Regions from separate parts of the Homo sapiens genome. Here region 2 is linked to region 1. Evidence: fine-mapped expression QTL. Tissue or cell type: whole blood. Region 1 holds a variant in brackets; the other region holds the start of a gene. All regions are shown on one strand. Distances are between the middles of the regions.

The links.
Region 2: it holds the start of MDS2, and the variant in region 1 is fine-mapped to the expression of MDS2 in whole blood (TOPMed, PIP above 0.99).

The regions. Positions count from the first base shown.
Region 1 is chr1:23,617,827-23,620,738 of GRCh38, forward strand. No RefSeq gene overlaps it. Among named protein-coding and RNA genes, the nearest start is that of MDS2, 8.1 kb to the right of the region's middle. RefSeq lists enhancers at 1,186-1,686, 1,687-2,187 and a silencer at 1,693-1,962. The variant A/C (reference allele first, on the strand shown) is at 1,704.
Region 2 is chr1:23,625,820-23,628,731 of GRCh38, forward strand. It overlaps MDS2 (myelodysplastic syndrome 2 translocation associated), which reads left to right and starts at 1,515. Exons shown (of 6, transcript NR_167910.1): 1 at 1,515-1,718; 2 at 1,962-2,179; 3 at 2,688-2,778. RefSeq lists an enhancer at 1-88.

The DNA.
Region 1 (2,912 bases):
CTCCTGCCTCAGCCTCCCAAGTAGCTAGGACTATAGACACGTACCCCCACACCTGGCTAATTTTTGTATTTTTAGTAGAGACGGGGTTTCACTATGTTGGCTAGGCTGGTCTTGAATTCCTGACCTCAAGTGATCCACCTGCCTTGGCCTCCCAAGGTGCTGGGATTACAAGTGTGAGCCACCATGCCCAGCCTACCACAGAGATCTTTCTAGAACCCACAACTGACCATGTCACTCCTGCTGCAAACCCTGCGTGGCTCCCTGTCAACCTCAGGATAAAGTCTGAGCTTCCTAGGGTGGTAACTGGAGGCCATTCCCAATTCGACTTCATCTTTTTTTTTTTTTAAATTTTTTTTTTGAGACAGAGTCTCACTCTGTCACCCAGGCTGGAGTGCAGTGGTGTGATCTTGGCTCACTGCAAATTCTGCCTCTGGGGTTCAAGTGATTCTTCTGCCTCAGCCTCCCAAGTAGCTGGGATTACAGGCGTGCACCACCATGCCCGGCTCCAATTTGACTTTATCTTGAATCCATTTCCTCTCCCCATCCTGCATTTCAGTCACGTTTCACGCCCTTTTCCTGAGCACACTACCCCCTTTCTTGTCTCTGGACTTTTCTGCTGGAATCCGTCTCTGTCCAGCACGTGCCTTGCCCCTCTCCCCACCTGAGCTACAACCATTTTTCAGAGAGTCCCGTCAAGGCTGACTCCTCTGGGAAGTACCCCCTGTACCAGCCTGATCCCCCTTGCCCAGAGAGTCGGCTTCCCCCCTCTTCTGTGCTCCCATCACACCTGGGCCTTTGCGTCGTGGGCTAACTGGGACATGAGCCCCCAAGGGCAGGACCCAGCCTGACCTTCCTCTCCACCCTTGGGCCATCGCTGCACACTGCAGTGAGCTCCATGGGTAAAGGGGAATGCCATCCGGCCCTTCTCACAGGGATCCTCCTGGCTCATCTCATTTGGTTCTTGACTCATCCTTGACTCTTTAGGGCAAAGAGGCACCTGGAAGAAATAATTACAGTCTTTGCATGTGGGTAGTACTTCGCAGTTTACCAGGTGTTTCTGAGTTTCTCATTGGTCTTTATATGTCTGTGGGTTTCAGGGAAGTTGTTGTCAACCCCATTTTACAGATGGAAAGCTTGGTTCAGAGAGTTAGGGATGGAGCCAATCCCCAGTCTTGGGCAAGCCCCTGACCCTGAAAATCCTTTTGTGATCCAAGCCCCCCATTTCCTAAACGTGTGCTGAGAACCAGGGAAAACCGGGGTATCCAAGTAAGAAGAGGGAATGCAGATTCTGGCCTGGGCTAACAGCAACAGTAATAATGACCCCACGGCAGCCACTGCCCTTGTCCTGCTCTGCGTTCCATCCACGTCACGAGCATCATCTGCTTATGAGGAAGGGTTACTCATTCCCATGTTACAGATAAGGAAACCGAGGCCCAGCAAAGCTAAGAGACTTGCCTTTCTTGGCCAGTTTCCTTCCGATGCCTTGGTGATCGCTACAGCCCTTTACAGTTTGTAACTTTAGCACCCCTTTCCTGATCTCTCCAGTCTAGCACTGGTAGGTGGACGTGCTCCCATTTGACAGAAGCAGCAACTGAGGTTCAGAAGTCAAGGGTGGAGCTGGGAGACGGCTCTCAGCCTTCCGATCATGGGAGCGCGCCCAGAGCCTGGTGGCGCAGCTCTGGCGGGGAGGCGGGGAGCAAGCG[A/C]TAGGGCCGCGAGTGGGAGTCCGCGTCTCCTCCCCGCCAGCCGCCGCCGCCGCCGCCGCCGCCACAGCAGAGCCTGGCTTCCCCGCAGCAAGCGCGGCAGGTGCGCAGCCGGTGGCGGCGTCGGCGCGGCGGGTGCGCCCGCGTGGGCGTGGGCGAGGGACCTGGGCGGGCGGGGCCCCACGCCCATCCTCCCTCCCCCCTGCCCTCTCTCCCGTGGCTGGCGGCAGGTGAGTGGGTGTCGAGGAACCGCCAGGCAGCGGAGAAAACAGGACGCCGCAGAAATCAGATTACTCACCTGCAGCTGCTACTACCCAGGGCTAATAAAAGCAGAGCTTCCTGTTGTTTCTTTATTACCGCCCTCTGCCTCCCTCCGCCCCAATCCGCTCCCAGCTGCAGCCAGAGCCCTAACTGATCGCCAGAAACCGGTTGCTTGGGGTCCAGACCAATCCAGTGCCTGAAATACCCTCTGTGCCGCACAGGGTTGGGTTAATGCTTCCTCAAGGGTGGACTTCGGTCACCTGCATGGGAACCACCTGGGGTGCTGGTTAACAACACACATCTCCAAATACGGCTTCACACCTGCTCGATCAATTCCTGCAGTTTGGGGCCCAAGAGCAGAATTCATAGGAATCTCAGGTGATTTGTAGGCAGGCTGAAGTTTGAGAACCACCGAGTCTGGATGTTGTAGGTTCAGATGATGTGGGTTTCCTGTTCTCAAATGCGACCCACAAGTTAGGGATGAAACCTATCCCCAGTCTTGGGCACGTGGGGCAGAGCCTCAGTCTGCTTATTTGTAAAATGGGGGTGAAAATAATACAGACCTCTCAGGACTGACTGAAACAAGGCTCAAATGGAGAATACACTTATCGTGATTCCTAGCGATTGCTCCTGGAGTGTATAGACCAACCAGGACTAGGCACGGAGTACCATCCATGGAGTGTGAGGGGCAGGATGAAGAAGCAGGCAGAATGGACCTCGGCTGGGAAGGGGCCATGATTCACCCTGGGTGCACTGAGAAAGACTTTTCACCGTTGAGCTTCTCCAGAGTCCAGTCCCCCTCACACCAGGAAAATGTTCCTGCCCAGGGCATGGACAACCCTGATGGCTAGATCCAGTGACCTCTTCTCAGCCCTTCTGTGACACCTGACTCTGGAGTGGACCTCACCTTTCTCCTCCAAGCTGTCACCTCCCTCAACTTCAGGGCAAGTT
Region 2 (2,912 bases), 8.0 kb after region 1:
TTTCACCACCTGTAAAATGAAAATAATGAGAGTGGCCACCTCAAGAGGCTTTGATGATGAAATGGGACACAGCTTGGCAGCAGGGAGTAATCAATATAGGCTAGCTTCCATGCAGATGACAATTATGGTGATCAGGAGGAGGATGATAATGATAGGGATGATGGTGATGGTGATGATGATGGTGATGATGGGGATGATGGTGATGGTGATGATGGTGATGTTGATGGTGATGGTGATGATGGTGATGGGGATGATGATGATGGTGATGGTGATGGTGATGATGATGGGGATGATGATGATGGTGATGTTGGGGATGATGATGATGGTGGTGATGGTGATGATGATGGGGATGATGATGATGGTGATGATGATGATGGGGATGATGATGGTGGGGATGATGGTGATGGGGATGATGGTGATGGGGATGATGATGATGGGGATGATGGTGATGATGGGGATGATGATGGTGGGGATGATGGTGATGGGGATGATGGTGATGGGGATGATGATGATGGGGATGATGGTGATGGTGATGATGATGATGGGGATGATGATGATGGGGATGATGATGGGGATGATGAGGATTCTGTTGTGTGATATTGGGGGAGTCAGTGAATGACATTTTCCATGTCTGTCAAATAAGGGTGTTGGACCAAATGATCTGTGAAGGTCCATCGAGGTCTGATGTTCTAGAATTTTCTAGTTTAAGTGCTCTCTTCCTCCTTTCAGCCTGGGTTACCCTCTTCCCTGCAATTTTGGTGCTCCCTAGTGATGTGTGATGAGAGATGGAGTATTATAGTAGAGACAAAACTGATGTGGAGTCAGGAGGCCCGAGGTTCCAGCGGCACCATTTATAGTGGAGTCTTCATCATGGTGCATTTAACTTACACACATTTTTTTTTTCTCTTTGAGACAGGGTCTTGCTCTGTCACCCAGGCTGGGGTGCAATGGCGTGATCTCGGCTCACTGCAACCTCCACCTCCTGGGCTCAAGTGATTCTCATGCCTCAGCCTCCCAAGTAGCTGCGGTTATAGATGTGCACCACCACGCCCGGCTAATTTTTGTATTTTTCACAGAGACGGTGTTTCACCAGGTTGCCCAGGCTGGTCTCGAACTCCCGGCCTCAAGTGATCTGCCCACCTTGGCCTCCCAAAGTGCTGGGATTACGGGCGTGAGCCACTGCACCCAGCCTAATTTACACACATTTAAACACGCGTGTAAAGGGAGGGGAGAGAGAGAGAGAGCACGTTGTGCATGAATCACTGCTACAGAGTCACACTCCAATTCCACTTGGTGAGCACTCACCCCTTGAGAGGGAATGTGACCTGCCAGGTTCCCCCCGCCGGTCCAAGTTCCTGCACTTCCAGCCTCATGTGGGCTCTCATCATGCTGAGTGTGATCCTGCTGTTCAAATGGTTTTTATGTGGTGTGGCCCCAGATACAAGCCAACCATTTCACCTGTGGTGAGCGGAAGGCGCAGCTATCTATAACACCTGAGAAAAAAAGAACCTGCTGTACTAGCTGTCAGCTGCTGGAGACCTTGCTTTCTGTTTCACTGGGAAACAGAAGCAATCAGAAGGAAACTTCCTCAGACTCCACCTCTCCCTTCACTCCCGCCTGTATCCGTGCCTGTTACCTGGACGCCTTGTGGAACTTGAATTCTACGCCCTCCACTGGGACACTGCCCTTCATCCTCTCTCACCTCCTCCAGGACAACAGTGAGCAATTCCTTGCGTCTCTCCCACAGCTCCAGGGGTCCCCCTCTTCTGCTGGCTCATTCACATCACCACACAATCGGCTGCAGTTCTTCCAATTGTACACACACACACACACATGCACAAGCCCATGCACACACACCCCCACACCCACACCGTCATATTTCTTTGCTCCCCCTTCCAGGAAAACATCTCAGTGTTTTCTGAATTGACCATCTTCATCCCTCCTTCCTTTTCTCTCTCCAGCTCTCTCTGTGGGGCTTTCACCCCCATCGCTCCACTGAAACTGCTCTTGTCAAGGTCATCGATGACCTCCCGCTGACAAACTCAACTGTCCCATCTCTACACCCCAAACTGACCCATCAGGAATAGCATGAGCTCCACCTTCCAAAGCTTCCGCAATCTCACCGTCTCCACCGTTACTACCTGTGTCCGAGGCACCACTGTTTCTTGCCTGGAGTTGTGTAAGAGCCTCTCAGTGACGTTCCCTGCTTTCTTTCTTTTTTTTTTTTTTTTTTTTTGAGACGGAGTCTTGCTGTCGCCCAGGCTGGAGTGCCGTGGCGCCATCTCCTCTCACTGCAAGCTCCGCCTCCCGGGTTCACGACATTCTCTTGCCTCAGCCTCCCGCGTAGCTGGGAATACAGGCGCCCGCCACCTCGCCCGGCTAATTTTTTGTATTTTTAGTAGAGACGGGGTTTCACCGTGTTAGCCAGGATGGTCTCGATCTCCTGACCTCGTGATCCGCCCACCTCGGCCTCCCAAAGTGCTGGATTACAGGCGTGAGCCACCGCGCCCGGCCAATTTTTTTTTTTTAGACGGAGTCTCGCTCTGTTGCCCAGGCTGGAGGGCAGCTCGCTCCAAGCTCCGCCTCCTGGGTTCACACCATTCTCCTGCCTCAGCCTCCCGAGTAGCTGGGACTACAGGCGCCCACCACCACGCCTGGCTAATTTTTTTTATTTTTATTTTTAACAGAGACGGGATTTCACCGTGTTAGCCAGGATGGTCTCGATCTCCTGACCTCGTGATCCGCCTGTCTCGACCTCCCAAAGTGCTGGGATTACAGGTGTGAGCCACCGTGCTGGGCATCCCTGCTTTCATCCTAGCACTCCCTGCTGCCTTTATACCCCATAGAATAACCAATGTGATCTTTTCATTTATTCATTTATTATTATTATTATTATTATTATTTTGGAGGCA